2 linked regions of the Homo sapiens genome follow. The protein of the gene in region 1 interacts with the protein of each later gene in a pairwise test. Each region holds a gene or a part of one and is shown on either strand. Other genes may lie near its edges. The genes, in order: C9orf43 and RABGAP1L.

The links.
Region 2: the proteins of C9orf43 (region 1) and RABGAP1L interact in binary tests that used the Homo sapiens proteins (3 or more experiments, as listed by UniProt).

What each region holds. Positions count from the first base shown.
Region 1 is NC_000009.12:113,420,691-113,427,970, forward strand, and holds part of C9orf43 (uncharacterized protein C9orf43), read left to right. Parts: intron 1-28; exon of another isoform or gene 29-118; intron 119-412; coding exon 413-513; intron 514-1,858; coding exon 1,859-1,895; intron 1,896-2,635; coding exon 2,636-2,808; intron 2,809-3,475; coding exon 3,476-3,626; intron 3,627-4,328; coding exon 4,329-4,386; intron 4,387-4,653; coding exon 4,654-4,730; intron 4,731-4,952; coding exon 4,953-5,040; intron 5,041-7,280.
Region 2 is NC_000001.11:174,274,339-174,281,618, forward strand, and holds part of RABGAP1L (rab GTPase-activating protein 1-like), read left to right. Parts: intron 1-761; exon of another isoform or gene 762-851; intron 852-1,494; coding exon 1,495-1,597; intron 1,598-4,274; coding exon 4,275-4,441; intron 4,442-7,280. UniProt on the Homo sapiens protein: GTP-hydrolysis activating protein (GAP) for small GTPase RAB22A, converting active RAB22A-GTP to the inactive form RAB22A-GDP. Plays a role in endocytosis and intracellular protein transport.

The sequences.
Region 1 (7,280 bases):
GAAAACACCTTGCTTCTGTTTCTATCAGTTCTCTTCCTGCTCCCAAACTGCAGATTGTAATGTCTGTGGGATCTAAGTCTTTGGAGTGGAGTGGGCAGGATAAGTAATGTTCCTGTAGGTAAGCCCCAGGGCACCCTCATATGGGATTGGATTGGGAGTTGCTAAATGCTACCCTAATGGCACAGGGAAGCAGGGGAGATTATCTGCTTATTAATACTCACTCTTGCAGATACCTATACTGATATTTGATGGAGTAGTCTGTTTTTTTTGGGAGAATATTATGAAGATATCTTGAAGATGGGAAACTTAAAATCATCTTCTGTGCCACCAGACTCTTTGCTTAGCATATCCTTAATCTGATATAGGAGCTTAGCACCTCAAGCCATACATAGGCTTTATATCTTTCTCTTAGTTTCCAGTGTTGAATTTGAATGAGACGCAACTTCCCTGCCCTGAAGATGTTAGAAATATGGTTGTATTGTGGATCCCAGAAGAAACAGAGATACATGTGAGGTGAGTATCATATCTGGAACTCAGAGGACTTTGACTCTATAAATCCCTGATGTCTTCTGCAGCGTCCTTTTTGTGATCTCCCATTTAGCCAGCTCATTGCAAGTAGCAGGAGGCCAAGCAGAGAAGGTCGTGGTCTGTTGCATCTGCCTTTTGCTACACTGGAATTTTAATGTAATGCATTTTGAGATTCATGCTGTGGGACTTCTCCATATCAAATTTTACACGGCAGTAAATAGCATACAAGATAGGGCTCAACTTACTTATAAGGCTTGACTAAGAAATAAATGCTCTCTCTTAGTTTTTCTTATTAGCCACTTGCAACAAGTGAAAAAGTTCTCAGTGAAGCATGTGAATCTCTGTTCTCAACCCCAGGGCCTAGTACAGTGTACAAAAGCAATAGCATATAGGACTTGTGTACAAAAGAGTGTGACAAAGACCATTTGGTGAAGGCCCAAAGGCTTGCTAATATTGACAACCATGGGGAAAGTGTTTGGTTCTTCTTTCCTGATCCTTGAGGCTTTCAGGTTCTTAAGTGACATTTAGAGATGATGAAACTTAAGAATTTCTTTTTATTTCTTTTGTTTTTCTTTTTAAAAAATAATCCTGTGAGTGCTTCTCTCTATATATATGCATTTGTGTGTGTGTATATATGGTATAAACAAATGAAAAACAACCCTAAGGGTTTATTTCCTTTCGTGTGAAAGAAGCTCAGAAGTAGGCAGGCTAGGTCATGTGAGCTCCATGAGATAATTAGAAACCAGGGCTCCTTCTAGCTTTTTGGGCCGTCATCCTTAGCCCATGGATTCCAACTTCTAAGGAGTTTCATGGCTGCTTTTAAGGTATAAGTTGGCTACTAGAGATCCAGCTATCATATCCACGTCCCAGGCAAGGAGGAAGAGGTCAGAGCAAAAAATACTTCTTACCAAACATCTCTGTGTCAAGCAGTGAGGATTTAGTGAACCAAATAGATTTGGTCCCTGTCCTGTTGGAGCCTTGTCAGGGGGAGTCAGCCATTACAGACATAACCACACCTACATATATCATTTCTAATTTGGATTCATGCTATGAAAGTAGGTAACCGGATTGCCTGAGAGAATAATGGGAAACCTAATTTAGATATGAGGATGGGGGGTCTTTTTAGCAGAAGGTACTTGGGCAGCAGTTACTGCTGGGTTCCCAACCAGCTATCTTTGAGTACTGATCAAAGATAGGAATCTTTGTGGTCATCATTCACAAATATCCTTGGAGCTTCTGTTTAAGATATCTGGGAATAAGTTGTGCTTACTCTTATTTCAAGTCCAGCTGAGAAGCATGTTTTGTTTTGTTTTGTTTTGTTTTTCTCCAGCCAGCATGGGAAGAAGAAAAGAAAGAACTCGGCAGTGGTGAGTTTGATGTTTTTGTGCAAACCTTTATAATATTGCTATGTAGAGTTTATTTTGTTTTCCTTTCAGGTCTCCTCCACCTTACCCCCGTTCTTTCCTGAAATGATCCAAATCTGCTAAAGAAAACCCTTCTTTAGGAATAATTAACCAAACCATTCTCTATTCAGAGACTCCTTTTTTCTGTCTCCTTCCTATAGGGAGATGAAGAGCACCTTGAGATAATAGGAGGAACTGTTGCGTGTTCAGGGGGGGAGTTTTTGGTCAATTAAAAACGAATCCCCAACGTGATCATATAGAATTTCAATGGACTAGGGGTTATAAGACCTGGGCTTCTAACTCTAATTGTACCATTTATGAGTAAATGTGACCTTGGATAAGTCACTGTAAGACTGCTATGTCCATGAGAGTAGTGTCTTGGTTCATTTTGTTCATTGCTGAATCCCCATCCCTAGCCCTGTGCCTGACACATAATTAGACAATAAATTTTTGTTCAGTTTGTTGAGTGAGTAAACGAATGACCTTTCTGGAAAATGAAACAAAACAACGAATCCCTGTATGATCTGAATACAACAACAGAGTTGGGAGCTTGAGAGGGAAACATGTGGCGGCCCTCATCGTTCAGAGGAGGCAACCATGGCTGGAGTACATGCCAGGGTAGTGTTGAGAGGCTAGAATGTTGATGGAAAGGACTAGGCTAAAAAGAATGCTTTGGAGAATTCTTTCCATTGTTTCTCTTCCAGAAAAGCAAGTCATTTCTGGGTCTCTCTGGAAATCAGTCCGCAGGAACACGAGTAGGAACACCAGGGATGATCGTGCCTCCCCCAACCCCAGTGCAATTGTCTGAACAATTCAGTTCAGATTTCCTACCTCTCTGGGCTCAATCCGAAGCGTTACCTCAGGATCTACTGAAGGAGTAAGTATCATGTAGGTCTGTGGGAGAGCCAGAGCACCTGCTTTTTACTGAAGCTGGGATGGGTCTAAACAGTGTGCTTTTTCTGAGTAGGACTGGGAGAAAACTATCACCCCGATTTGTTTACTGAACTCTTGGACTTACCAACAGGCAGGGATGACCATCATAACCACCACCATTTGTCACACTTACCATTTGCCTGGCCCTGTGCTAGGCATATCACATGTACTTTCATTTAAATTTGCACTAGGAGGTAGGCACTATCACTGTCTTCTTTTTATAGGTGAATTATGAATAAGTGGTAGGCAGAATATGTGGTCTGCAGTGAGATGACCTTTGAATTTTACATTGAAACTTAACTGGCTATATGAATTTTGGTAATGTATTTAGCCTCTTAAAGCTTCATTTTCCTCATTTGCAAAGTGGGAGTAATATCTGTTCTCAGGTGTTGTAAAAGCACATGAGCCTGACATAGAATCAGCACTGAGTATATGCAGCTATGATGATCGTAGTTGCATCAGAAAAGTGTTACCAAATGAACACTTGTTGGTACAGGCCTTTTCAGACCCAAAGTGGAAATTTCTTGGAGCCCTTTACATCTCTTTCTCCTCAGCCATGCTTTCCGGGAAGAGCTGTTGCTGACTGTCTGGCTGTCCTCTGTCCCCTTCAGACTTTTGCCAGGTGGAAAGCAAACCATGCTCTGTCCAGAGATGAAGATAAAATTGGCCATGATGAAAAAGAATCTTCCCTTGGAAAAGAACCGACCTGACAGTGTGATTTCTTCTAAGATGTTTCTATCTATACACCGCCTCACCCTGGAAGTAAGAGCTAGGAAACAGCAGGGAAGAAGCCTATGTGAAAATTCAAACCCATCTCTCCTCAAATCTGGAAGAGTTGACATTCTATTCCTTATCTCCCTTCTGCCTTTCCACTCTGAACCCATGCCCCAGAGAAGGCTGGGCTCTATGTATGTAAAAGCCAGTCGATGGGGAAGTGTTGAGAGAGCAATGTTCTCTATTTCTTTCTTTTTTTTTTTTTTTTCTTTTTTGAGAGACTGGGTCTCACTCTGTCACCCAGGGTGTAGTGCAGTGGTTGATCATGGCTCACTGCAGCCTTGACCTGCTGGGATGAAGTCATCCTCCTACCTCAGCCTCCAGAGTAGCTGGGACTACAGGTGTGCGCCACCATGGCTGGCTAATTTTTAATTTTTTGTAGAGACAGGGTCTCACTATGTTGCCTAGGCTGGTTTCGAACTCCTGAGCTCAGGTGATCTGCCCACCTCAGCCTCCCAAAGTGCTGGGATTACAGGCATGAGCCACCATGCCTGGCCATGTTCTCTATTTCTTCTGCACTTTGTTCCCCACACCTTTTCCCTTCCTCCGTAGCCCCTGGTACAATGCTGCAAAACACTGGGTTCTTAAAATGTGCTTGTTGACTGGATGAATAAACGCATTTGGGGGATACATTTGGAGAAAGGGAAAGACCTGCAGTAGAGCTTTTCTTTTTCTTTTTTCTTTCTCCAGAGACCAGCACTGCGATATCCTGAACGTTTGAAGAAATTACATAACCTGAAGACAGAAGGTAGATTTGCTGTTGCTGCTGGATCTCTAAGCACCATTTTCTGTTAGCCCACATTTCTCATACTTTAACGTGGTCCAATTCAGTTATATTTGTGGCCACAGTCATACAGGGTCACATGTAGAACTCAGGAAACAATAGTTTCAGGAAGCAGCCCCTCTGGCTTGGTCCTTACCAGGGAGTCACCATTGTGAAGGAAGGCACAGCAGGCATTCCAGTGGGAGAGAGGGGGCTGTTAGAAGAGGATCAAGCTGGCTCTCTGGTCACCAGGTTACAGGAAACAGCAGCAGCGGCAGCAGCAGCAGCAGCAGCAACAGAAGAAGGTGAAAACACCTATTAAGAAACAGGTAGAGTGGCAGTGAGGGGCTTGCTGGGACTGGGAGAGGTCTACAGCCTGGAATGGGAAGGGATGTATGAAAGGTGGGGGTCTCCTTGTTTTCTATCTGGTTATAGATAAAAAGTTCTTGTCTGGTTGTAGATGTTAAATTCCTTCTTTTTGATATTCCTTTTGAAAAAAGTTTTCTTTACTTCCAAAAATCCTAATTTGTTCCTCCTGATGTGGGTTTCAGGAGGCTAAAAAGAAAGCCAAGAGTGATCCAGGGATCCAGAGCACTTCACATAAACATCCAGTTACCACCGTTCATGACCGTCTCTATGGTAAGGGGAATATATGCTTGGTTGGGGGTGATAGGATCCCTGAGGGGTAGGTATCTGAGGGCAGGAAAAGCTAAACATGCTCTTGTCATTTTGAGACCTGCCTTTGTCAGGCACTCAGAGTTTCTTGGAATGCTTCAGTCTGTCTGGTCTCTCATGCACCATCCTTCCCTCATAAATTTGCTAAACAAACAAGCTGAGCCAGATGTCTGCTTCACATGAGGGCTTGAAAGATGACCATGAACATGAATCCCAGTCATCTTTTCCTCAGGTTCTACCTTAGAAAAGGCAGAGCACTTTGAGGATCAGGAGAGGAACAAGCCCAGGTTACTGAAGAGAAAACCCTGAGGGCCCATTTTCCAATGAGGCAGGGAGAGCTGGGGCCCCTCACTAGAACCCCAAAAGAGTTCTAAGGAAGCAGAGCTCTGGGGCCCCCTAACCTTCCTGCCACAAGGTAGAGAGTCTCTGGAGCCTCACGTTAAAATCAACACATTGTCTAGCCCCATCCAGGAGTCAGGGAGCCAACTCTTGTCAGGCAGTTCTTTTGCTCCAGTGCTCATGCTGGACACAAGAATGGACATCTCCCCTTTTTGGAGTCGTTATTATGTCTGAGCTCAGGCATATACTTACCCCTATCCCTCCAAAATTTTTCAACTTGAGTGGAGAATGGGAGGAGGGAGAAAGAATCCCCCCAAACTTTGGAGGATCGTTGTGCCCGTCTCAGACTGGACATTGCTGACTTTAATATGAAAACAACTGTTTAATCATCAGAAAGAGCTCTCCAATCCTGGGGCACTGGGAGGGCTGAGATGAGGTTTCCTGAGAAGGATGTTGCCCTCTTGCTTTCCTTCCCATCTCACTTAGTTGTCTGATGCCAATGATCTGCTCTAACCTGAAGGTTGGAAGGTTCCTGCCCTTCTTATGGGAGGTGGACAGAATCAGGGCTTGGCCCCGGGCAGGAGGTGATGTATCCAAGGTTAACACTCCATCTAGGGTGACCACTACCACTCCCCTGAATTCCGTTCTGGTGCCTTTTGTACCCCTTCCCAATGCCTCCAATAGGAGCAATTTTGCTTGGGTGACTGGGGTGCCTCTGTGAGTCATGTTCATAGAGCAGTGGCCTGTCCTCACTGAGTTGAGAAAGGCTTTATGGAAGAGATGATTTTTGCATTGAATCTTGAGTATGTGTGGGAGTTTTCCTGATATGGGAAAGAACTCTTGAGAGGGAATAGCCTGTGCAAAGGCATCTAGGAGGATCACAGCTGCTCAGGAAACACTGAGCAGTTGAGTGTGGTTGTGGGGTTGGGTATTTAAGGGAGAGTGGTCTATCACACCAAAGAGGTAGGCAGGGGCTTGTATGGACTGCTAAGTCTTTTGACCTTTATCATCCAGGCCAGTGGTGCTCCGCCTTGACTGTACACTAAGACCAATTGTGAAGCTTTTATTTATTTATTTATTTGAGACGGAGTTTCGCTCTTGTTGCCCAGGCTGGAGTGCCATGGTGTGATCTCGGCTCACCACAACCTCTGCCTTCTGGGTCCAGGTTCAAGCAATTCTCCTGCCTTAGCCTCCCCGGTAGCTGGGATTATAGGCATGCACCACCACGCCTGGCTAAGATTTTGTATTTTTAGTAGAAACGGGGTTTCTCCATGTTGGTCAGGCTGGTCTCGAACTCCCAACCTCAGGTGATCTGCCCGCCTCGGCCTCCCAAAATGTTGGGATTACAGGCGTGAGCCACTGCGCCCAGCCAAGAAGCTTTTAAAACTCTAATACTCAGACTGTGTCCCAGCTATTAAGTCAGAATTTCTGATGGTAGGAACTAGGCCTCAGTGTTTTTTGTTTGTTTGTTTTTTAAAGCTCTTCATTTCTCCCAGTGTACAGCTAAGGTGAGAACCAGTGCTGGTAGGGAGTCCATGGAAATGCTATAATTTAGCATAATACCTCTGGTGGCAGCTTGGAAGATGTTTGTTTAGGGAAAGGGAGATTGAGAAAAGAATGAATGAATCTACCTAGGGACTAGTTGGGGAAGCAGCTGATGCAAAAGAAACATAAAACTAGAGGTTTTTGTTTTTGCTTTGTTTATGGGTACATGAGGGATGGCGCAAGAAGATGAGTCACATTCTGGTAAGAGGAGTATTCATATGCTGTGAAAAAGTAGATTAGGGTTTCTTGGAGGAATCCTGGGTCTTTTAACACACACTTGAGCGTAATCTCTAATTCTGTAATAGATGAAGTTACAGTCC
Region 2 (7,280 bases), on another chromosome or scaffold:
CCATACTTTAAGGTCGTCCCGTAAGATTATAATGTATTTTTACTGTACCTTTTCTGTGTTTAGGTACACAAATGGTATTGTTATAGTTGCTATAGTATTTGGTACAGTAACGTGCTGTACAAGTTTGTAGCCTTGGAGCAACAGCCTAGTTGTGTAGCCCCTATACCATCTAGGTTTTTATAAGTACGGTGTATTCTATTTGCATAAAGAAATCACTTAATGACACATAACTTAGAACATAACCCTATCATTAAGCAACAGGTGACTCTGTGTGTGTGTGTGTGTGTGTGTGTGTGTGTGTAGAGGAGAGAAAGAGACCATTATCATATGAGTGTGTTGGGGCTGCTGAGAGGGTTTCGTTTACAAGTGACCTTGAGTGTATTTCATCTCTGGAATGCATGGTCCCTGCGCTCAAGCTACACAATCTGATTAGTGAAGTATTACTAATACACTAGAAAAATATACATAGTAATTACCAAATGACTGACACAATTTTATAGGGGGTTCAGAGAAACATCTGTGAATGGGTAATAATGAAAAAAGAAAAGTTTTTCTCTTTGTTTTAGTCTGACCCTTTTAACAGTCTCTATTCATAATGTGAGGAAATCGCTACAAAAACTGAAATATTGTAGATACTGTTCATTTGCATATGGAAATACTTGTATGCTGTGTGTTGTTCTTTCATGGGACAAACTCTACCCCTCCTCTCTCCACACACATATACACAAGCTATAAGTAGCCTAGCTTTCGCCATAGGAGTTGCTGGCTTTTTTAGTGAGAGTCAAGAGCTGGCTTGGTAAAGTCTTAAAGAATGGAGAAGAGGAGGAAGGAGAGAAGGGAAGAAAGAGGGAGTAAGTGTAACAGTAGAGGGAGAGAGTTAATACACTTGGATGCTGCTTACAAACCAAAAATTAGTCTCCTAATACTAATTTATGATTGTAAGAAAGTATATAAATATCTGACATATAGAAAATAGACAAGTGTTAATTTTAAAGGTATTAATTGCTACAAACTAAATTAATATTTTAAGAATTCATTAAAAATTAGAATATTAGAAGAAAAATATTAACTTTCCCTACTGTGATTAGCTACTAGTTCAGTTTAACTGTCTTCAGCTAATTCTATATTATTGTTTTAATAGAAACCATATACATTCTTATGTGTATATGAGATTTGGACAATTGGTGTCAAGATCAAGTTAAATACAACTTTGTAACAATATTATGTTTTTTTGATTCAGCATGTAAGTATATGCCTCCTTTTATCCAAGGGTACATGTCTTTAAATAGAAACTGTGCTTGAAGAAAGCTGTAGAAGAATTTAATATTTAAATAAATGCTTTTGTAGGATGAAAAGAATTTACAGTGAATATAAAGCTCCTGCTTGACTGTTAATCTAAATTTTAATAATTTGTATTGCTTAAAGTAAGATGTAATTTAAAGTAGTGATTTTTTTGATGTCTTTTATCAGTAATTACTGTTTGAATTTTTATAGGAATCCATGGGAAAGAGCTATGATGGGAGAGCTTATGTCATCACTGGCATGTGGAACCCCAATGCACCAGTATTTCTGGCACTTAACGAGGAAACCCCAAAAGGTGACTTTTCTTAAAAGATCCCTTATTGTTTGCTTTACATTTTATATTATGAACAATGTTGCTTGTCATGTTTTAAAAAAAATTTGGAACTCAAAGTGGACTTATTCTTTCATTGAGAATTTGAGGTTCATTTTTATTCTTTATGCTTCTATGGGGGAAATCTCCACTATTTAAAAAAATCCTCCCCAAAAGATATGTGAATTATTATTATTGTTATTATTTTAAGAGACAGGGTCTCACTCTGTTGCCCAGGGTAGAGTATAGGGGCATTATAGCTCACTGTAACCTCAAACTGTCATGCTCAAGCAATCCTCCCACCTCAGCCTCCTGAGTAGCTATTAAATAGAACTACAGGTGTGTGCTGCCATGCATGGCTAATTTTTAAATTTTATTTTTGTAGCGATGGGGTCATGCTTTGTTGCCCAGGCTTGTCTTGAACCTTTGACCTCAACTGATCTTCTTGCCTTCCAAAGCACTGGGATTACAGATGTGAGCCACTGCACCTGGCCTGAATTAATTTTATTAGATTATAGAGAAAGCATTTGGGCTTTGTTTTTCATATACCACTATAGAGTTATTTCATTTGTGGAGACTAGTGATGGAGAAATATTAAAGAAAATGATGAAAAGGAAATATTTTAGAATTTTGAATATTTTTAAATTATTAACTATTTTTGCATTATAGTTTACTTATAGTTTTTCATTTATTAATTATTGGCTCCAGTCTTTTGGCCTTCGGGATGCTTGTAATATATATTAAATATTTCAGTTGTAGCAAATAGTTTTTTCTTAGTTTTTTAACTTTTCATATTATTTATCATGTCTAGTATTGAACAGAATGTATAAATGTTGAATAGTCACATTTTTCGTTGTTCCATTGTGTTTTTTCATTCCTACTTCATCCAGATAGCTGTTAATTGCCTGTTTTTTGCCCCTTCATTATCTACTTTTAAACTAAATTTAAAGTTTTACCTGCCGAGTTATATGCCTACCCTAAGTGCTTTACTGTCATTAAACCATTAATTCATATTTAGAATATAATGGATCAGTTTGTTTTATCATTAATTTTTATATTATTTAGTTTATACCCACAGTAGACTTTTGGTTACTGACAGGAAGCATTCGTGAATACTGATATGAAAATATAATATGTTAATGAAGGGCATTAAAATGATAATTATTCTTTCATTTCCTTAAAGAGAGTATTCACCATTTATATAAATCACATACATTGATCACATATTAAGCTGTCTAAAAATAAAGGCTAAACAGAAAAAAAGATTATATAAAATTTAACTTTTCATTTATTAGCAGTAAATAATTTTTAGACCCACAATTTGTTATTTCTGGAGACAGGCTTGCAAATACCTGTAACTTCTTTCTTATACTTGTTCAGAAGGAAGCCACAAAAATGATAAAAATAAGCCAGTTGACAGTTTTGAAGAACAAAATATAAGAATTTTGCATATCAAGTTATAAAAATAGTTTTTATGTTTTTAATGTAACACCTAGTTTAGTTTTATTTTGCAATAAAATATATATTTGGTCCACAAAAGAAAATTTATTTATAATTTATTCTATTAAACTATATAATAGTATATTATAATATTCTGATTCAAAGTATACATTTTAAATTTAACATTATCTCATATGCCACACAAAAATGTTGCCCTGATTTTTAAAATTTCTAAATTATGTCCTTGAAATTACACATTACTCAGAGAATGTGTGATCAAATAAAGTTTGATTTTTATGGAAGAAGTTTAGAACCTGAGAGATGAAAAGTCTTGGATCTTTCCACTGCACTAAGATCCAGTTGAATGTTATATTCTGTCTTGTGTTATTACTCCTTACTCCTTTCTCTAAGGTCCTCCAGGTCAAGTATAATGTCTAACAAATTTTAGTTTCTCTTGAATTGGCAGGTGTATTTAGTAAGACTGTATTTAGTAAGAATGTAATAAAATTGTTATTGAATTTGAGAAGTAGTTGATGAATCTGAATGTTATATAATATTTAAAAACACTATTGAGGGTTTCTTCTAGTGGTGGCCTTGGTTATTTGGACTTTCCTTTAACAGAGAACTAAAAATTGTAAAGAAAATAAATTTTAAAAAATATTTAAAAAGGAATGAGGAAATTACAAAATGGTATGGAATGACCAGGCCATAGATTCAAAAACCTCAATGAGGCCAGGTGTGGTGGCTCACGCTTGTAATCCCAGCACTTTGGGAGGCTGATGGGGGTGGATCACCAGAGGTCAGGAGTTTGAGACCAGCCTGGCCAACATGGTGAAACCCCGTCTGTAGTAAAAATATTTTAAAAATCAGCTGGGTGTTGTGGCGGGCACCTGTAATCCCAGCTACTTGGGAGGCTGAGGCAGGAGAATTGCTTGAGCCCTGGAGGCGGAGGTTGCAGTGAGCCAAGATCGCTCCATTGTACTCCAGCCTGGGTGAGACTCTGTCTCAAAACAACAAACACTTAGGATTATTAGTTCCTAAGAAACATGCTTGGAGTACTTGCATACTTATTTAATCAAAATGTGAATAGAACAGTTAAAAATAAACATAGAAGGTATTACAATTGTAAAGAACTTTAATTCTTTCATAAGTGAGGAAACTTTGTTTAAAGTAGACAAGGAATAATAAAGCTCGCATAAAACCCAGAAAATTTCTACTACAGATAAGCAAGTATACATGACTGTGGCAGTGGATATGGTAGTCACAGAGGTGGTGGAGCCTGTTCGCTTTCTCCTGGAGACAGTAGTCCGTGTGTACCCTGCAAATGAGCGATTTTGGTATTTCAGCAGAAAGACTTTCACAGAGACTTTCTTCATGAGATTGAAACAGGTAGGACCTTTTTGTTCTCTTCATATATAGTAACAAACATTTTTCTTTCCACACTTCTTTTTTAATGCCAAGATAATTCCTGAAGTTGCAAAACAATACAATTCCTCAAAGAAATCAAATGATATTTGAAGTCAACCAATAGAGTGTTTGAAAAAGTCACATCTAGGTAATATTAGCTAAAAAAACCCAGCAAGTTTAATAATTACATACTTTTTCCCTAGAAACCTGTAATGTATGAACCTTCTTAACAGAAATATTGACTGCATATAAAACAACGTTTCTGCCTTTTATAAACAATTACTTAAAACCAAAAAGGCAGTGCACAGAAATATCATATGCTTATAAAATTTTAATGAAAATGTTTCTAAGAAATACCTAATTTCTATAGTTATTTCTGCCTGTAATATTAGATAGACAATATTATATGAACATCTTGTTTGACTCATCAGTGAGGTTATAAAATTATTTTAATATTAAATGAACAAAATTATGGTTTCTATGATATCCTCAAATTAGGCAGTATTAGTAGATAAAATATGTAACTTTTGTATTATAGCAAAGGAAGCAGATAATAATGAAAAATAACTTGAATGCTAATTGTGTGAGTTTTTAAAAAATCAGGATAAAAATGCTCTATTAGAATAATGAACATCTTTTATATGCTGTTTTTGTTAGTACTTTCATTCTCCCAAGTTTTAAAATGCTTGCTGCTTCATATACTATAATATGTGGACTGCTGTGTGATAAAAGCAGGCACCAGTACAGGAAACAAATATAGAAGCCTCTTACCCATTTTCATATTAAAAAAACTGCCATGGCGCATCTCGGCTTTATATACTATGTACTTGGAAATTATTGTGGTTTTAAAAAAATCTTTCATAAAATTATTATGGCTGTTATTTGACTCAGTTTTTATTACTGTGTGAACTGCTTTTATAGCATATTCTAATGAAGGTTATGTGAGCAATATTCAAACTTCAGTCTCCTGAGCATCTTTTAATATTTTATTATGAGACTTTTTTCCTGTCTTCCTTCCTCCCCATCCTTCTTTTTTAAAAAAATAGCTTAGTTATGACTATCCAATAATTCTTCATTTTGAGCCAAAGAATTATTCATAGTTGCATAATCGTGAATAAAGGAGCTGGAGCTGTATAGAAAGTTGTCATTCTTCTAATGATGATAAATTATAATGTAAATTATACCTCCTAGAGATCTGAGAAAATGTTAGGTTTTTCCCAGTTCTAGTACTTTTGACTGTCTGTCTGCCTGGAGAGAGAGAGAGAGAGAGAGAGAGAGAGAGAGAGAGAGAGAGACATTAAAGTAATTGTTAAAATTCATGTAAGTAATTATTGCAAGACCTGAGACTATAACTCCTTACCTTAAGCCAGAATATGCTGCTGTAAGGCCAGACTAGCTTCTTTCTACACCTCCAAAAGGTGGGTTGGTTTGGGGTGGTTGATGGTAATCTGGAGATGTTGGTCTACACTATACAACATTGGTAGAAAGAATGAATTAGGTGATTACCTAATGCAATTCAAAGTAACCTTTGAAAATCTGGGTCCAGGCCATTACTACTTTAAAGAAATAAAGAGAGAATGCATTGATTTCAGTTCTAAGTGATTTAGACACCTAGAACTTTTTCTTTCATTCTGAGAGTGTTGAACTTATTGAATGAAACCAGAACTTGTCCTGTACCCAGACAGGATTAGACCAGACTCCTGGGGGCAACACCAAAGTACATGAGATGCCCTGTTCCCAAACTATTTTTTCTTGGCAACTTTCTTCTCTCAAATATAGCAGAACTTTATGTGTGGGCAGTGGGGATGTATGAAAGTCTGCTTTGTTCCTGTTTACTGTCCACTCAGGGCCAAATGGCATTTCATTTCATTCATTGTCCATTTACTGGGAGCAAGGAGAGCACTTAACAAGAGGATGGAAACTAGAGTCTGGGAAAGTAAACTAGAGGCTGGGAAAGTAAACTAGAGAAAGTCCTTTTGTGTCCGGAATTGGTTCCTTTCAGTGGGTTCTTGGTCTTGCTGACTTCAAGAATGAAGCCGCGGACCCTTGCGGTGAGTGTTACAGTTCTTAAAGATGGTGTGTCCAGAGTTTGTTCCTTCAGATGTACAGATGTGTCTGGAGTTTCTTCCTTCTGGTGGGTTAATGGTCTCACTGACTTCAAGAGTGAAGCCGCAGACCTTTGCAGTGAGTGTTACAGCTCTTAAAGGTGGCGTGTCTGGAGTTGTTTGATCCTCCCGGTGGGTTCGTGATCTTGCTGGCTTCAGGAGTGAAGCTGCAGACCTTCGCGGTGAGTGTTACAGCTCATAAAGGTAGTGCGGACCCAAAGAGTGAGCAACAGCAAGATTTACTGTGAAGAGCAAAAGAACAAAGCTTCCACAGAGTGGAAGAGGACCCGAGCGGGTTGCTGCTGCTGGCTTAGGTGGCCAGCTTTTATTCCCTTATTTGGCCCAGCCTGCGCCCTGCTGATTGGTCCATTTTACAGAGCACTGATTGGTCCATTTTACAGAGCGCTGATTGGTCCATTTTACAGAGTGCTGATTGGCCTGTTTTTACAGAGTGCTGTTTGGTGTGTTTACAAACCATTAGCTAGACACAGAGCACTGACTGGTGCGTTTTTACAGAGTGCTGATTGGTGTGTTTACAAACCTTTAGCTAGACAGAGTGCTGATTGGTGCGTTTACGCTCCTTTAGCTGGACAGAAAAGTTCTCCAAGTCCCACCCGACCCAGAAGCCCAGCCGGATTCGCCTCTCACCTTGACCTGAGTCTAAGGGGAGTAGACATTAATTAGGTGTAAGTGGGAAACACCAAGTATAAATGCCC